2 linked regions of the Homo sapiens genome follow. The protein of the gene in region 2 interacts with the protein of the main gene of each other region in a biochemical or structural test. Each region holds a gene or a part of one and is shown on either strand. Other genes may lie near its edges.

Evidence for each region.
Region 1: of the proteins of HTRA4 (region 2) and CDH5, one has a biochemical effect on the other in vitro, tested with the Homo sapiens proteins (one study listed by IntAct).

What each region holds. Positions count from the first base shown.
Region 1 is NC_000016.10:66,389,201-66,400,000, reverse strand, and holds part of CDH5 (cadherin-5 preproprotein), read right to left. Parts: intron 10,644-10,800; coding exon 10,479-10,643; intron 9,626-10,478; coding exon of another isoform or gene 9,599-9,625; coding exon 9,411-9,598; intron 7,866-9,410; coding exon 7,618-7,865; intron 3,943-7,617; coding exon 3,800-3,942; intron 2,020-3,799; coding exon 1,895-2,019; intron 1,546-1,894; coding exon 1,440-1,545; intron 1-1,439. UniProt on the Homo sapiens protein: Cadherins are calcium-dependent cell adhesion proteins. They preferentially interact with themselves in a homophilic manner in connecting cells; cadherins may thus contribute to the sorting of heterogeneous cell types.
Region 2 is NC_000008.11:38,969,709-38,977,800, forward strand, and holds the start of HTRA4 (serine protease HTRA4 precursor), read left to right. Parts: upstream 1-4,519; 5' UTR 4,520-4,555; coding exon 4,556-5,021; intron 5,022-5,322; coding exon 5,323-5,422; intron 5,423-6,826; coding exon 6,827-7,031; intron 7,032-8,092. Other genes in the region: PLEKHA2 (pleckstrin homology domain-containing family A member 2), read left to right, coding at 1-75. UniProt on the Homo sapiens protein: Serine protease.

The sequences.
Region 1 (10,800 bases), on a different chromosome or scaffold from region 2:
GATCCAGGAACTCCCTACTCCAGGATTTACTTAGCTACACAGGCTCCACACACTGGATTGAAAAACCCAGGAATCCATCTTTTCGATTTTGAATGAAAGCCAATTATATTTCATTATTCATAATTACATTTCAGCATTAAGTCTATTATATTTCAAAATAAACTATATGTCATTGACACTTATGGGAGAAACTAGAGATTTTGACATGCAGGATGTTCATGATATAAGTGAATTTGACACCAACAGACTTGCCTCCTATTGTATATGGGTGTCTTTGGGGTGGCACTGAATCTTTCTACTGTATTGCAGATCCCCACTCTGAGATGGGACTGAGGTGGACATTGGGGAGGGGGTGACATTTTTGCCACATTATTTACTTCTAATGACAACTGGGTGTTGAATGGTCTGTCATTGACTGTCAACACATCAGGGCCACCTTCTCCATCCCACAGGAGTCTCCTTAAGGACTGGTCTGTGGTTGATCCCTCAAGTCTGCCTCCAACTTTCAGGGACCCCACTCCCCAGTCTTCCTTAAATGTAGTAATGGGCTGCTGCAATACAGCCATCCTCATCCACCATAGTTTTGCCCATTAGGGACAGGCAGGAATTCCATCCCATGCTAGGTGAAGGATCACTCTATTTAAACCCAAGGGGAATTTTCTCTATTTTTTTGAGGAAATTTCAGAGGCCATGGAAGCTTGCCTACTTGTGGCTGGAATGAAGTCAACTCAGCATCATCACTTAAGTCAGCACCTACTCCTCAGAAGCTCTGATTGGCTGCTAATGCCATCACACGGGCCACCCTGCTAATCGTGAGTAATCGTTGTAGCTGAATTAAAACAAAGCTCACTGGATCCTTGGGATTTAGGATTTCACATTTCCAGTTTTGACTCTTTGGGAATGACCTCAAAGTTCCATGTTTAATGTGCAGTTTTGCTGACCCATAGAGCCTCCAGTATGGGAGGGGACTCCTTGGCTAGTTCTTGAACTGAGCTGACTGCCTGCATCCTCACATCTGTTCTGTACTCCTCGCTGGCTCCTTGCAGGCGACGTGGACTTGGGAGTTTGGATGGAGTGTCTCTGACCATTGCATAGACCAATTGTACAATGTATGTGGCAGAAATTGTACAAAATATCTAATGATTTGAAAATCCCAGTGGGAGCCTGCCCTCAATTTGTTGGCCTGGTCTTTGACCTTGGTGCCTCAAGACTCAAATAACCTCACCCCGACCCTGTTAGAGCCAACTGACTGCATTTGTTCTTTTTTTGGAGACGGGGTCTCGCTCTGTCGCCCGGGCTGGAGTGCAGTGATGTGATCATAGCTCACTGCAGCCTCAAACTCCTGGGCTCAAGCGATCTTCCTGCCTCAGCCTCCTGAGTAGCTGAGACTACAGGTGTGGGTCATCACGCCCAGCTGAACTGATTACTTTGATGCCTACCGTGATTATCCGTGAGGGTAAAGTTGTTCTCAGTATTCAAGATGAATTTGAACTTCACGTTTCGTGGTGTTATGTCCTTGTCTATTGCGGAGATCTGCAGGACCAGCTGGAGTGTGGAAGACAGGAGATGGTCAGTGATGGTGGTGGGGTGGTGGGGTGGTCTGAGGTTTAGCGATGGAGCCTTTGGGTTTAAGTCCTGACCATGGCTGTTTCCCACCTGCAACACTCACCTATTTAGTTCTTCATAAAGCCATTCTTTCTACTTCCCTGCCCCGCCAATCTACTCCCCATATATTCCCTCTGAGCCTCAGTTTCTCCATCTGTAAAATGGGCATAATGTTATTTTCCTCAAGGCTATTGTACAGGGGAACTCCTGCTGACTCTGTTGAGCAGTTCTGCCCCCCAGCCTGCCCCAGGGTGGTGCTGCCTTCCCCTCCCACCTGAACCAGACTCACCTGGCCATGGACAGCGTTCTCACACACTTTGGGCTGGTAGGGCTTGGCAAACTCCGGGGCATTGTCATTCTCATCCAAAACTTCAATGTGGACTTGCACAATGGATTCTTTTCCTGTGGGGGTTCCTGCAGGGGAGAAGACTGTCACCATTATGGGCTCAGCTGATGCTGGCCTTGGGCGGTGGAAGATGTGTGGAAGGAGGGCTGCCCTATGGAGGCCACTTTTTGCAGGAGGAGGCTGTGGAACAGAGGCCCAGGATGGTGTTCTGGATAAAAGGAGTTTGGTGGGGGGAGGTGTTAAATCTCATCCATAAGGTTTACTGAGGTATTACTTTGATTATGAGAATCAAAAAGGTAAACCACCTAAGTGCATTAAAAAAATTGTAATTAAATTCCTAAAATTAAAAATTTAATTATTTGATTAAATACATAAAACATAATAAATTAATCATAAAAGAATTGAAAAGGTAAACAACCTAAGTGAGATTGGGTCAGTAAACTAGGCTACCGGAAAAGACTGAAATGGATGGCCACTGACAATGCCTATGTCACTTACATCTTAAACATATAATTAAAAAAAATTTTAAGGCCAGGTGCTGTGGCTCACCCCTGTAATTTCATACTTTGAAAGGCCTAGAAGGGAGGATTGCTTGGGGCCCAGAGTTGGAGACAAGCCTGGGAAACATGGTGAGACCCCATCTCTACAAAAAAAATTAAGACATTTGCTGGGCAATGTGGTGCACGCCTGTAGTCCCAGCTGCTCAGGAGGCTGAGGTGGGAGGATCATTTGAACTCAGGAATTAGAGGCTGCAGTGAGCTGTGATCGTGCCACTGCACTTCATCCTGGACAACAGAGTGAGACCCTGTTTCTCTCTTAAAAAAAAAATTAGTACCATGAGAAAGTGGTTCTGGAATAAGGTTAAGTAAAGGTTAAGTAAAAATGTGGAATATAATATCTTACACAAACATTACAATCTCATGTAAGTATAAAAATATGTATAAAAATAAAAATACATGAATGTGCTAATAGTAACTGTCTCTGCATGGTGGCATTGGTGGGAGGAGTATTTTCTTCTCATTTTCTGTATTTTCCGTATTTTAAACCATTTAAATGTAAAGAGTCTATGAATGGGATTATGTGGAGGAGAAAGAAGCAAAGACTGATCTGGCCAAACATGCAGGAGTCCATTACAGTTTGGGGCAGCAGCTGTGTTGGCAGAAGTGAGTCTGGGTGGGCCCGGCAGGCGCCAGGGATCCTTGGCCTAGCGGGCTCCTGGGTAAAGTGGGAGTATTAATAGTTCTCCTGGAGGGTGATTGTGATTTTCTAATATAGATAGAGGATGCAAAACTCCAACTCTTGCCCCTCCCTCTGGCAAAAATTACACAATTTCTAGAGAAACTCACAATCTCAAAATTGGAAGCTGCTTCACATTTTGAATTCTACCTATTAACTGGTGCATAAACACCCTCTGAAGGAACATTTCCCAAACAGCCATGATAACTAAGAATCATGGGACCCTTGTTAAATGCACATCTCTGGCTCACTGGACCAGAACCTGCAGGGTGGAGTAGAGCTTTATGCTTAATAGGTGACTTGGGTGATTCTCGTCACAGAGACATCTGCACAGCCTGTTTCATGACAGTGGTTTTCAAACTGTGACATGCATGAGATTCCGATTCAGTGTGGGGGTGAGGCCCGAGATGCAACAAGGTCTCAGGGGATGTTGATACTGCTGGGTTCAAGGACCACACTTGGGCATGGGAGCTCTATAGCATCCCAACCAGCGGGTGCTTCAGCAGGCACTTCTAATACGTCTAGAGACCCCAAATTATTGATTATGCCAGTTTTGGAAGAATGAGGGAAAAGGAAAAGAATCCAGGTGCCCTGGCAGATGTGGCCACTCACCAGTGGAATCCAGTTCTTTGGCCTCCACAGTCAGGTTATACCAGGGGTAGACTTCTCTGTCCAGTTCTTTCTCATTGTAAATGTCCCCCTTTTTTGTGACTCGGAAGAACTGGCCCTTGTCACTGGTCCTGCGGATGGAGTATCTGCCCAGGGGAGAGAGTTTCATGGCTTTCCATTGTTCTTTGCTGAGTCTACACTCCTCAGCATGATGGACAAGGCCCTTCTGCATCTGTCCCCTGCATCCCACTCCATGCCCCTCTCTCACTGCTCATTGCACTCTGCCACTCAGACAAGAGTGGACCTACACAGAGGGATTCAGGATAGCAAGATAATGTCTTTGATCTTAGTTACATTGCCATCACTGGACTGGAGGTGGTACCTGAGACCATCAGATGCACTTTCAGAGCTGAACAGGTGACATCACACCATAGCTGGGACTTGTTTTAGTGATTAATGAAAAGATCATTGGGCAAGAGCCAGGAAGGAATACAAAAAGAGCTGGAAGAGATAAGAAGTAATTACAAAGAAATTAACTTTGTGAAATAAAAAACTTAAAAAGTTCTTTCAGAAATCAGGAAAAATCTATGGAAAGATAAATATATATGTTTTGTGTATATAGGAATAATAGTTGCTATTAATGAGGAAAATCCCAGAACAAACAGAACAGAAGAAATAACAAAAAAAAAAAAAAAAAAAAAGAAAAGAAAAGTTTCCTGATCTGAAGAAAGGCTTGAGTCTACACATTATAAGATGTCATTGACATCAGGCATCATTGAAAAAAACCCCAATACTTAGGCAAATCCTGACGACACTTACGAATTTCAAGGCTGTGTGAAGAAACTGAAAAGAGTCCAGACAGAAAGAAATAATTTCCTTATGAGGAAAGAAAAATCAGATTTGCCTCAGATGCCCCCACAAAATTAAATACTAGAATACATTGATAGTATTTTTGAAGGGAAGTGTTTATAATCTGAGGATTATACGAATACATCTAGGTGTTATTAGAAGGCAAGGTTGGGCATGGTGGCTCACATCTGTAATTTGAGTGCTTTGGGAGAGGCTGAAGCTGGAGGTTTGCTTGAGGCCAGGAGTTCAAGACCAGCCCAGCCCAGGTGACAGAGTGAGACCCTGTCTCACCAAAAAAAAAAAAAAAAAAAAAAAAAAAAAAAAAAAAAAAAAAAAAGATTAGCCTGGTGTGGTGGTGTGTGCCTGTAGTCCCAGATACTCAGAGGCTGAGGTGGGAGGGTTGCTTCAGCCTAGATGTTCAAGGCTGTAGTGAGCTATGGTTGTGCCACTGCACTCTAGCCTGGGTGACAGAGGAAGAACCTGTCCCCCCCACCCCCCAAAAAAGGCAAAGAACTAAGATATTTGTGTCCTGAATTTTTTTTTGAAAACTTACTGTATCTAACTAAACATCTCAATATAAAGTAAAAACCTGGCATGGGAAGAATTAAAACAAAACTATTGATTTTTTTTATCATACATAGAAAAGCAATGGGTGTGTGTATGTCTATAATAGTTTTAACTAGAAAATATAGGTCCAAGAAAACATTTTAAATTTTGCAGATAGAAGTAAATCTCACTGGTAGAAATAAAAATGGATGCACCTCATCCAAATATCTAGGAGAAAAAAAAAATAAAGAAACATAGACTGTATAGCAAAGATGAGGAAAAAGAAAAAAGCCATTAAATTTGATAAATGAGAAATGTAAAACAAGATAAAAGAAGGAACATCAAACATATCAATTATGATGAAAAATGTAAATAGGTTAAACACAAAGCATTTCAGTTTAGATTAAAAAGCAAAGCCAAATGCATTCTTGTTTTCAAGAGACAACTTAATGCCAAATGACCTGGAAAAATTAAAAGTAAAGGTTGTAAAATTTGCATTAGGCGTATATGAATAACATGAAAACAGGACTAACAAATGTAACATCAGGAAACAGAATTAAAGGCAAAATATTTAAGCAGAACAAATTGGCTAATTACATTTGGATGAAAGTTACAAACCATAATGAAGGTAAAATAGTTGCAAACCTTTGTTAACTGAATAGAAAAATTTAAATACATAAAGTCAAAACTTAGATATTCTAGGAAGAAGTGGACACAAATACAATTGTATCACATCACAGAACAAGCTAAAGCAAAACAAAAAAAACACCCTATGACTTATAAATGAAAATAAAGAAATCAAGTCAATCTCTTAAATAAACCCTTGGATCAAAGGAGAAACAAAAATTATAATTACAGGCTATTTAGAAAAGAATGGCAATGAAGAGTAGTCCCAAAACTTAGGATATGAGGCCAAAATGGAAGAACATATTTTGTCCTTAATAAGAAGACTTAATACCCTTGAAACATTAGCTATACCAAAATTAATATATAAACACTAGAATTCTAATGTTTAAAAAACCTGGATACAAAATTTTAAATTTCACAAAAGAAAAAATGAGAGTTGACAAAAAATTATATCAAATAAAAAAGCAACATGGGAAGGACTTTTATGTATATCTAAGATCTAGTGTAAAGCTATATGGTTTGGATCTGTGTCCCCACCGAATCTCATGTTGAAATGTAATCCCCAGTGTTGGAGGTGGGCCCTGGTGGGAGGTGGATAGACCATGGGACAGAGTTCTCATGAATGGGTTAGCTCCATCCCCTAGGTTCTGTTCTCAAGCTAGTGAGTTATCATGAGACCAGGTTGTTGAAAAGTGTGTAACAACTCCCTTCCCACTCCTGTTCTGGCCGTGTAAGACGTGCCTGCTTCCCCAGGACTGTAAGTTTTCTGAGGCCTCCCCAGAAGGAGAAGCCACTATACTTCCTGTTAAACCTCTTTTCTTTATAAATTACCCAGTCTTAACTATTTCTTTATAGGAGAATGGACTTATACAAGCTAGTAGAATAAAACAGAATAGCTTTGCTATAGAATGATGGATAGGACAGAGAATTAGAAGTAGATACAGGTATATACAGAAAACTTAGTATATAATGAAGGTGGGAAAACGATGACTTATTATTATAATATTTAGTAAATGGTGCTGGCAAAATCAGCTATGCATCTACAATAAAATAAGATTGAATTGAATTTATACTTACTATTGCATATTATATGGCTCTAAAAAGTATCTGTTGGAACTATATCATTTTTTTCTAAAGATTGTAAAAGAGAAATTTAGTTAAGATAGAAGAGCAAATATCGATGAAACCAGCATGGCATGATCCAAAAAAATTTTAAAACAATCAAACATCAAAAGCAAACAGACAACAACAAACCCACCATAAATGCATCCACATGTTTGTGTGGTCACGAAAAGAAAGGAGCAATAGGACCAGGTTAGGCCACGAACATGAGTTATCTGAGAGTGGGGGTTATCAGTGTTTTCTTGGTAGATCTCTGTGTTGTTTCACTGTATAAAATGAACACTTCTTACTTTTGTGGTTTGGGGAAGATAGATTCAAGAATACAGTTTTAGTGAAGGGGCCTCTGGTGTGTCGTCTGATTGGTTGCTTTCTTGACTGTCAGATCTTACCACATAGGACTGGTGAGAGCTGTGGTGCAGAGAATAAGCCTTCAAGGCCGGACAGAGGACAAGTAGCTCTGGATGCCCAGGACCATGCTAGGTGGGGGAGTCCAGGCAGGTCAAGATGCCAGGCTGCCAAGTGCAAGAGCTTGGGCTTCTGGTCTTGCCTCTGTCACTTTCCCTGTAAGTGCTAGGAGAAGCCAGTTCCCCTCTCTGAGTCCTGGCCTCAGACCAGCAGGCATAGGAACATCCAGGCCGGATTGTCCTTATCATTCTCATCGACACACGCCCCCTTACCCAATGCTATGCCTAGCCGCATCAGGGTCCATGGCCAGCACTGTGCCAATCAGAGGCTTCTTCTGGTTTTCCTTCAGCTGGAAGTGGTAGAAAGGCTGCTGGAAAATGGGGGGCTCGTCCACATCTGTGATGTTGATAATGACCTGGGCTCTGTTTCCCGCGGGAGGGCTCATGTATCGGAGGTCGATGGTGGGGTCTGTGGCCTCGACGATGAAGCTGTATTGCTGGATGTATTCATAATCCAGAGGCTGCGTAAGGAAAAAGGATGGTGAGTGCCTGCTCTGGGCCAAGCATGTGTGTGGCACATGATCTGCACAGCAACTATGCAAGGTAGTACCAGGATGACACCCATTTTATAGATGAGGGGCCCATGGCCTCGACAAGTGATATTTCTGAGGTCATCAAGACAGCGGCTGGGCCTGGTGTCTGTCTTCAGCTGCTCCCCATTTCATCTCAGCAGCCTCATGGCCACACCCACAACCCTGGCTGTGTGCCTGGCCCTATTTCCAGCGTTTGGGACATAGAATGGATCAACTATGGTCCTGCTCTTAAGAGCGTCACTAGTGGTTCTACCCACAGGTCCTTAAGGACAGGCTTTTTCTTTGTTCTTGAGACAGAATATTGCTCTTGGTACCCAGATTGGAGTGCAATGGCACGACCTCCGCTCACTACAACTTCCACCTCCCAGGTTCAAGCGATTCTCCTGCCTCAGCCTTCCAAGTAGCTGGGATTACAGGCACCTGCCACCACGCCCAGCTAATTTTGGTATTTTTAGTAGAGACGGGGTTTCACCATATTGGCCAGGCTGGTCTCAAACTCCTGACCTCAGGTGATCCACCTGCCTCGGCCTCACAAAGTGCTGGGATTAGAGGCGTGAACCACCGGGCCCGGCCGGACATGCTTTTTCTTTATGCCTTTGCTCAAGATCCTTCTCCTGCCCTTGCCTGCCTAGAAAACTCCTACTCATCCCTCAGGAAGCCAAGCAGAAGGTAATCAGATGCTCTCTCAGAAACCCCTCCTAGCAGAGGTAATTGCTCCCTGTTCAGAGCTGCTGTGTATCACTTACACCTGGCTGTACTTTTTTTGTTCATGCATATGTCTTCCCCATTCGCTGAGACCTTTGCTGACACTGGAGGCTGTGTCTGCCTCTCCTTGGTGTTTCCAAGCCCCAGCATGGGGCTGGTTCAGAGAAGGACTCAGGCCCAGGACTTGCAATCCTCTGCATGGCCATTCCAGAGGCATTTTTTATGCCCCTCACAGGACCTCTCCCTCCTCTTCCAGATTCAGTTAATCTGGCTTCTCTGGCTGTCAGCAGCATCCAGTGTCAGTGGCCATCCATGTCACCACAATTACTCACTGTTTTCTTCATGCTGATGGATTTCTACTGGCCAGGACACATGGCAGGCCAGAAAGTGCCAGAGAGGTAATAACTCCAGGGGCAGCCCCCAGTCAACACCACGGACAGCGGGTGTATAAATACCCCAGCTCCTTCACCCTCAGCTTCTCCAACTCTGGGATGTGTTCCACACTTACCCCGCAGTGGGTCATTGCTCCTGGGGCTTCCTGGGATCACCTCCCAGATAAACAATTTACACCCAGTCATGGCCTTAAGATTTGCTTCCCAAGTAACTCGGCCTAAGACACTGGATCACAGTCTCCATGAACACATGACCACCTTGGAGCTTTGATGGTCCTTTGATGGTCTCTGGCCCAGGAGCAATCCCCAAGCAGGACCTGTGGGTGCCAAGAGCCCCAAGCCTCACGTTTGACATTGTTGCCATTGGCCTACAAACCTTCATGGGCTTGATGATGCCCTCGTTGTGGGCGGGGTTTGTCTCAATGGTGAAAGCGTCCTGGTAGTCGCCCCGCAAGATGCTGTACTTGGTCATCCGGTTCTGGGGCTCATCTGGGTCCTCAACAAACAGAGAGCCCACAGAGGTGCCCACACGGGTGTCTTCAGGCACGACAAATGTGTACTTGGCTGATGCAAACAGAGCACCCCAAAGGGCTTTGGGTTAATGAGATAGACAAGGCGATTGCCTCTTTCAGCTATTCTAACATATTTTGATAAAAGAAATGGGCATAATAAAATAATCATAAATAATAATACCCCTGGGATTCTCAAGGTAAAGAGGGTCTTCCCTATCTGTATGTCCATCCATCCATCCCTCCATCCAATAAATAGCTATTGAGCACCTATTGTATGCCAGGCACTTTGCTAGGGGACCTATCAATGGACAAGAGAGACAAGTCCTGCCTTCAGGGAGCTTATGCCATGTACGAGGAAGCCACTTCAGGACAATTGGCCTGTCTCTAGGGTGGCTGAACAACTGAATGACAGTATCAGCACTGGGAGTTGCAAGTGGAGAGCCATCTGCCCCAGGCATGGGAAAAGCTCTCATTAGACATTCTCTGTGGGGTGGATCAGTGTGTAGGTGGGGTCAGGGCCCAGCCCTGGCTCTGGATATAGAACTTTGCTGTCCCCATGTTCACTGGCTTGTGGGAATTTCTAGCTGGGACCTGAGTCTCAGGGCTTTGATTTTCCCAAGCCCATGGGATCTGGGTGAAACTGCTTGTGTCTCATGGTGGGACACAGTACAGTGGTGGCACCCAGCAGGGAGTGGGATTTCCCTCTGGCCTATGAGGGGATTGTGGCAGGGGGCGGCAGGATGGCCTTGGGAATGTGGTATTGGGATGGAAGCAGGGCCCCTCCCTTCACCCAAAGGACTCCTTTGGGCATCAGGCCTACCCTGGGATAGAGGGAGAGGTAAAGTGATTTGTAACTCTTTTCCCAGAGCCCCAAGTCACTGAGTCTGGGGTATCCCAGCCCCCCTTCCCAGGGCCCTAGAGGAGGGGCTCACTCTGGGTGAAGAAGGGGAAGTTGTCATTGATGTCTTGCAGAGTGACCAGCACGGTGGCCGTGCCCGAGTCCCCCCGGAGGCCCTGGGCATCTCGCGCTTCCACCACGATCTCATACCTGGCCTGCTTCTCTCGGTCCAAGCTTTTCGTTATTGTGATAATACGTCCTGCAAAAAGATTCCCAGCAGGAACCATGTTACCAGCTTCTAGAAAATACCGATGCCTAGGGCCTGCCCAGAGAGAACCTGACTTAAGAGCTTCCCTGGTGATTCCACTGTGCAAATGGGGCTGAGAACTGTGAGTCTACAACCCACTACCTCCATA
Region 2 (8,092 bases):
GAGCCCCAGCACCCCAAGGAGAAGCCGTTTATGTTCAACCTTGATGATGAAAACATACGGACCTCTGATGTGTGATGGAGCACAGTGCCATGGGAGGGAGGGAGGGAGGGAGGACTTGAGAGAAGGAGGCTGTGACTCAGTTTCTCTACCTTGTTGGAGGGTAGTCAGAGGCCTTTATGTCACTCATATTCCTGTGGATGCTCTTTGGGAGGGAGGGGCCCATCCAGCTGGGCTGTGTGTGTGTGTGTGTGTGTGTGTGTGTGTGTGTGTAATATCAACGCAGTGTATTTAATTTGGGGAAGTCACTAGGTTAGAACTGTAGGCATACTCAGTGGAGAGGAAGCTACCTATTCTATTCTAACTATTCTGAGGTCTTCCTGGAGAGGGATTGTTTTAGCAGCTCCTCTCCAGAGGGGGCTGGAAGTCCAGTTTCACCAATGACCAAGTTTTATTTCCTTGTCCTTGTTTTAGTTTTTTCATTTTGTTTTCAGTCCAGGTGCCTCGCAGCTCTTTTGGAATGGGCCAGCATTAGTCTAATTTTAAGCGCTATGTGTTTTGTACCCTTGCAAACTTGCTTTCTCTTTCTTCTTGCTGTTGCCCTTTGAATGAAGCCTTGTGTGCTTGCATGATCAGACCCTGTAATAGGATGAATTTCCATGCACTTAACATGAAGAGATACAAAAAGAATCTAGAGAGAGATATATATTTTTAATGAAATAGAAGCTTGGCATAGAAACATTGATTTAGATGTTATGAGTTGCTGGCCAGAGATTCCTCAGATAAAAGAGCCTAGAAAATTGAGTTTTGAGCGGGCATGGTGGCTCACGCCTGTAATGCCAGTAGTTTGGGAGGCTGAGGCGGGTGGATCACCTGAGGTCAGGAGTTCGAGATCAGCCTGGCCAACATGGTGAAACCCCGCCTCTACTAAAAAATATGCAAAATTAGCCGGGCGTGGTGGTGCAGGCCTGTAATCCCAGCTACTCAGAGGCTGAGGCAGGAGATTCACTTGAACCCAGGAGGTGGAGGTTGCAGTGAGCCAAGATCGCGCCATTGCACTCCAGTCAGGGCAACAAGAGTGAAACTCCGTCTCAAAATATAAAAGAAAATTGAGTGTCCCACCCAAATTTTAGGGCGTACCTCCTTCCATTTGATAAGAAGATGCTATTTCCAGTGTCCCTGGGAGAATTCTTCCATCCAGTTTATATGGTGAATTGCCACCAGCGTTCCCTAAAGGAAGAGAGAACTTAGCTTATTTCTGTCTGTGACTTTTATCAGCTAGATCAGTTAATTGTATTTTTAAATTAAAAATTAGTAACTAGAGGAAGAGACTAAGAGAACTATTTTTACCTGAGTAAATGCTCTCCTCTTCTTGTGTCCAAATCTAATGCAGAGGTGAAAACACTTGATGAGAAAATCCTTTGTGGCTTGAGGGGAATCATGTTTCTTTCAGGACGTGTTGTTTCCCTGAAGTCTATGTCACACTGAGAACTTTTTCTGACTGCACTGCTTTGGAGCTATTCATTTAAATTGAGTTTGGCCTAGTTTTCCTGGTATAAAACAGGAAATCTACATTGTTCCCTCTTTCTCTCCCTTCCATCCCTTCCCCTGCCTTTCCTATACACGCTGGTGTGCTTTTGCCCTCAGAAATTCTTGGTTTGGGAGTTATGTATTTTTGAGTGATCGAGGTTATGACATACTTGGAGCGGCATGATTTCAAGAAGCCATTCCAAATTCTTATAGCTCCTTAGCTCTGGTTTTACTCTCGTATTTTCCCCAAGAAAATTTTTTGGCTATTCAAAGAAAGCACAAAATATGTGATGTGGAACTCATGAAAATAGGGACTTTTGATATCTCTTTAAATATTCCCTGACTCACGGAAAAGATGTCCTCTTTTGGTGTATACATTGTGAAAATCTACCCATTTATCTCTCTCTCTCTCTTTTCTTTTAAATAAATTATCTGATAAGGCCGGCAAGGTGGCTCACGCCTGTAATCCCAGCACTTTGGGAGGCCGAGGCGAGCGGATCACGAGGTCAGGAGATCGAGACCGCGGTGAAACCCCGTCTCTACTAAAAATACGAAAAAAAAATTAGCCGGGCGCAGTGGCAGGCGCCTGTAGTCCCAGCTACTTGGGAGGCTGCGGCAGGAGAATGGTGTGAACCTGGGAGGCGGAGCTTGCAGTGAGCCAAGATCGCGCCACTGCACTCCAGCCTGGGCGACAGAGCAAGACTCCATCTCAAAAAAAAAATTATCTGATAGGTTACTATTGCTAAATTAATTGGCCATTATAATAAGCTGATTTGTTTCTTATTCAGCAAGATCTCTTTTGAGAATGTGACAAATTAAACATACATAGAATCCATATGGTATTATCCTGATAAAGGGAAACGAGGACACTAAGACTGTCAAATGGAAATCTTCTTGTCAATTGGCAAACACTTGGGAATTCCACATTAGAGCATTGCTTGTTTTTAATTTTTTTTTTTTAATTTTTAAAAGACAGGGTCTCACTCTCTTACCCAGGCTAGAGTGCAGTGGTGTGATCATAGTTCATCATAACTTTGAATCTCTGGGCTTAAGCAATCCTCCCATGTTAGCTTCCCAAGTAGCTAGGACTACAGGGTTGTGCTACCACGCCTGGCTAATTTTTAATTTTTTTTTATCTACAGAGCCTGGCTATGTTGCCCAGGCTCTCTCAAACTCCTGGCCCAAGTGATCCTCCTGCCTTGGCCTCCTAAAGTGTTGGGATTACAGGTGTGAGCCACTGCACCTAGCCAGAACATCGTTAATGTAGTTCAATATGAGATAAATTATTATCTTCAATGAAACAAGCTCTAAAAGCATTCCATTCCTAAATTGTATTTCAAACTTCCTATTTTGTTGATATTTCTTAACTTCTGGCCAGTTTTGGACCATAATCTTTTAATGTGAACCAAAGATGGTACGTATTTGACCAAAGCAGTTAGTTTTAAATGTATAAAATTGAACCAAATGGAAAAAATAGGTTGGGGATGCAGTATAGATTAGTGACTAAGTGCATAGGCTCTGGAGTAAATCTGAGTTTTTTTTTTTTTAAAGGAACTAAAAAATGTACTGCATTTTCTTTGTGGAATAAAAGCCTTGCCTGAGTTGTGCTATTTTCATAAGGCTTTTGAAGTGGTCTTGACCCACTGTGTGTAACAGTATTTCAGGTGGTCCTCCCCATGGCTGAATAATGCCATCCATTATTCTTTAATTTTTATTTTTAGAAACAGTGTTTCACTCTGTCACCCAGGCTGGAGTGCAGTGGCCTGATCATGGCTCACTGCAGCCTGGACCTCCTGGGCTCAAGTGATCTTCCTGCCTCACAGCCTCCCAAAGTACTCAGATTATAGGTGTGAGCCACCACGCCTGGCCACCATCTATTACTTTTGAAATCTTCAAAAGACTTGCTTACTCAATGTCAGCTGATGGTTGGTAAAAATAATTTGGCCTTTAGTGTTAAGTGAGACATCATAAGGGTATTGAGGTATACATTATGGAGATTGATGTCAGGTCAGAATATTGGAGTTATACATCTATTTCTGAGTTGAATACTCAGCTCCCACGAGAAAGAAAGTAGTTTTAAGGTCCAGCTTCTTAGTCTACTTGAAGCAAATTTTTTTTCTTTTATATTTCTGAATATAAATATACTCTTATATGGGCTAAAAAGACCCCATGAATAAATAGCAGGTTCAGTAGTTGAGGAGTGGAGTTTAGTAGGTTTGTTTTCAGTATAAATTAGATAACATGTGGAGGTCACAGCATTTTGGAAATTGAGTGTCCCCAAGTGAGCTTTGTTTATAAACTTTCAAAATGTCGGAAGTGGACAGGTTTGTTAAATCTTGTCTGCCAGCACCCTTTTCTTCCTTTGTTCCTTTTCCTCTCTGTGTTATTGCCTGCGGCAGCCAGTCCTTCATACTAGATAGAGTTCAGATAAAGCAAACGTTTGGCAAAAACATACTGTTTGACCTCCTCCCCCTCTGCTTATGAAGGGGTAGCATGATTCTGTGTTTTAAAGCAGTGATGTTTCAGCTGTGAAATGCACTCGCTGTAAGCTCTAGGCTGAGTGCATGGAAACTGTTACGCTTCTCATTTTATGTGATCTCCTAATTGGTATGTAGCAAAAATTTTCTAAAACTGTTTTGTGGCTTGTTTTGTAATAAAACCATGTGAAATACTGAAATATGGTCATGTGTTTTCCTAATACTGACCTTCTGACCATGGGTGGGTGAGCTTTCTTATCAGTCTGCCCTCATTGTCGGTTTTAGGGATTTCAGGAGGTAGGTTCCTGCTCCGGGTAGGGCTAGAGACCTTCCCCTCATTGCCTGGGGGAGAACCTGGCTCCGGGGCGCCGACGGGGGCGGGTGGTAGGGGATGTACGGGTGTGTATATGCAGAGGTATGCCAGGCTCTGCCCCTTAAAGTTTGGGGGCCGGCGGAGGCGGCGCCGTGGCCGGGAGAAAGTGTCTCTCATTTAGGAGGGTTTGCAGGTCCAGAGTAAAGTCACTGAAGAGTGGAAGCGAGGAAGGAACAGGATGATTAGACCTCAGCTGCGGACCGCGGGGCTGGGACGATGCCTCCTGCCGGGGCTGCTGCTGCTCCTGGTGCCCGTCCTCTGGGCCGGGGCTGAAAAGCTACATACCCAGCCCTCCTGCCCCGCGGTCTGCCAGCCCACGCGCTGCCCCGCGCTGCCCACCTGCGCGCTGGGGACCACGCCGGTGTTCGACCTGTGCCGCTGTTGCCGCGTCTGCCCCGCGGCCGAGCGTGAAGTCTGCGGCGGGGCGCAGGGCCAACCGTGCGCCCCGGGGCTGCAGTGCCTCCAGCCGCTGCGCCCCGGGTTCCCCAGCACCTGCGGTTGCCCGACGCTGGGAGGGGCCGTGTGCGGCAGCGACAGGCGCACCTACCCCAGCATGTGCGCGCTCCGGGCCGAAAACCGCGCCGCGCGCCGCCTGGGCAAGGTCCCGGCCGTGCCTGTGCAGTGGGGGAACTGCGGGGATACAGGTGAGCCGCGGGGGCGCGCGCCCTCGGAACACTTTCTAACTCTGGAGGAGCGTAAAGGAACAAGACCTCACTGAGACCGCACAGTTCGCGCCTGGTCCTCCTGCGTCATTTGCCTCCTGGATTCGACACCTCTGTGTTCCTGATTTCCTTTCCTCCTTAACAGGGGCTCTTTACCGGCTGCTACGTGGTTTCTCCCTCCCCATGCACCTTTTGAACACTGTCTTGCCTTTAACATTTTTCCAACTAGGATAGCAGGTCTGGTTCCCTCGAGGCGTACTCTTGAGCCAGTATTTTTTCATAGGGACCAGAAGCGCAGGCCCGCTCAGGAGGAATTACAACTTCATCGCCGCGGTGGTGGAGAAGGTGGCGCCATCGGTGGTTCACGTGCAGCTGTGGGGCAGGTAAAGGAGGAGGAGGAAGACCTCCACTGTCCCAGCTAATGGTTTCTGCGTGCCTACCTGCTCCAGACCCTTCGCAAGCGTCATTTAATCCTAAAAAACCAGTGAGGAAACTGAGACGTAAAGAGGTTGAATAACCTGTTCAAGGTCATTTAACCAAAGAGCAGAGGCACAAGGATGCTGACTTCTAAATCCCAGCTCCCCCTGCCCACTTAGGTGGCTGGTGCTTTTTCCCCCTCCTGCCACAGACAAAATTTAAGGTCAGATATAAGAGCTAGTAGGCAATTTCTTTTCTTTTTTTGAGACAAGGTCTTGCTCTGTCGCCAGGGCTGAAATGCAGTGACAGATCACGGCTCACTGCAGCTCCATCTGCTGGGCTCAAGTAATCCTCCCAACCCAGCCTCTGGAGTAACTGGGACTATAGGCAGGTGCCACCATACCCAGCTAATATTTGTATTTTTTTGTAGAGACGAGGTCTTGTTATATTGCTCAGGCTGGTCTCGAACTCCTGGGCCCAAACGATCTGCCACCTTAGCCTCCCGACGTGCTGGGATTACGGGTGTAGCCACCACATCCAGCTTAGTAGGCATTTTGGTTGTGATCTTGCTCAGCCCCCACTTTGGATACAAGGAAATCCAGACCCAGAGAGCAGGGTTAATTTGTCCTATGTTACTATGTTACGAGGCCAGTTGGCGGTGGAAACTAAGCCAGAATCAGAGCCCTTTGATTCTCTCCTGCCTGGGTCCTTGATACTGTGGTAAGAGGCTGACTTTTGCCTCTAGTATTAGGATTGGGTTCAGTCTTTTCGCAGCAGAGAACCCATGGGCTGCTACACTAACCAGCTCTGAAGAAGCAGTGTCCCTGGAAAAGGAGAGCTGGACCCCACTCTCAACCATGCTCACAAGAGATGGCTGGGGCCCTGTACCTGCCAAGTCCACTGATACATGGAGAAAATTTACGCATAGCCAGGGAAAAGTGAAATGTCTGAGAAAACTGAAGGAAGGCTGGGTACGGTGGCTCATGCCTGTAATCCCAGCACTTTGGGAGGCCGAGGCGGGTGGATCACCTGAGGTCAGGCGTTCGAGAGCAGCCTGGCCAACATGGTGAAACCCCATCTCCACTAAAAATACAAAAATTAGCCAGGCGTGGTGGTGCATGCCTGTTATCCCAGCTACTTGGGAGGCTGAGGCAGGAGCCTGGGAGGTGGTTGCAGTGAGCCGAGATTGCGCCACTGCACTCCAGCTTGGGCAACAGAGCGAGATTCTGTCTCAAAAAAGAAAAAAGAAAAGAAAAGAAAACTATGATGGAGGTATGTTTAATAAGAGTGAGGTTCCCATGACTCAGATTATATGGCTGTATCCCCTAACTTTCTTGCCCTCTGTTTACACTATTGTCTTGTGGAGACAGGTTACTTCACGGCAGCAGGCTTGTTCCTGTGTACAGTGGCTCTGGGTTCATAGTGTCTGAGGACGGGCTCATTATTACCAATGCCCATGTTGTCAGGAACCAGCAGTGGATTGAGGTGGTGCTCCAGAATGGGGCCCGTTATGAAGCTGTTGTCAAGGATATTGACCTTAAATTGGATCTTGCGGTGATTAAGATTGAATCAAATGTGAGTATTTCAGGGCTGAGTCAGAGTCTACATATTTGGGGATTTTTATCTATTTGCTGATATTTTCTGCCCCACTACACTCTCACACCACATCTTTTCTGTTGAATATATGCTTTTCTCTGGTTTCTTTCTGTTCTTTACTCCCTCTTTTATTTATTTGCTTCAACGCCTTTCTGTATATCCCTAACCGTTTCTTTCTTTTCTTTCTTTTTTTTTGAAACAGTCTCCCTCTGTCACCCAGGCTGGAGTACAGTGGCTCAATCTCAGCTCACTGCAACCTCTGCCTCCTGGGTTCAAGTGATTCTCCTGCCTCAGCTTCCTGAGTACCTGGGATTACAGGTGCCTGCCACCACGCCTGGCTAATTTTTGTACTTTTAGTAGAGACTGGGTTTTACCATGTTGGCCAGGCTGGTCTCGAACTCCTGACCTCAAGTGATCCGCCCGCTTCGGCCTCCCAAAGTGCTGGGATTACAGGTGTGAGCCACTGCGCTTGGCCTCTAACTGTTTCTATTAACTATCAAGCAGTCTTTTTTTTTTTTTTTTCCTCCTTCAACAAATGCTGCTTCAGGGAAAATTATTTCTCTACTTGTCTTAGGATATCAGAAATTACTGCGATGGACTCAAAGTTGCTAAGGAATACTTTGAAGTCCTTCCTACACATAGTACTGGTAGTCTGCACATCACATATATTGACATGGTGTCTGAGAGCTTTTTAGAAGTTCAGAGTCTCAGCCTTTACCCAGATAGATGTGCTGACTCAGAATCTGCATTAACATAACATCCCTAGGTGATTTGCATGCACATTACAGTGTGAGAAGTGTCACCCTGGGTGATCTCCTTTCTGTTTGTGGCTTATTCACTTTGACTGTTAAGCTTTGAGCTGGAATGGTGCTGTGTAAATTCCTAATGTCAGTTTATGTTCATCAGTGACTTCACTGGCTGTTTACTAATAGTAATTTCTACAAAGTAATTGTTTTAGATCTTAGAAATGATCCTAGTCATCTTAACACTCAAGAGCTTCATGGTAGTTGGACTTTGAGGAAGAAGTAGAAGGCAATCAT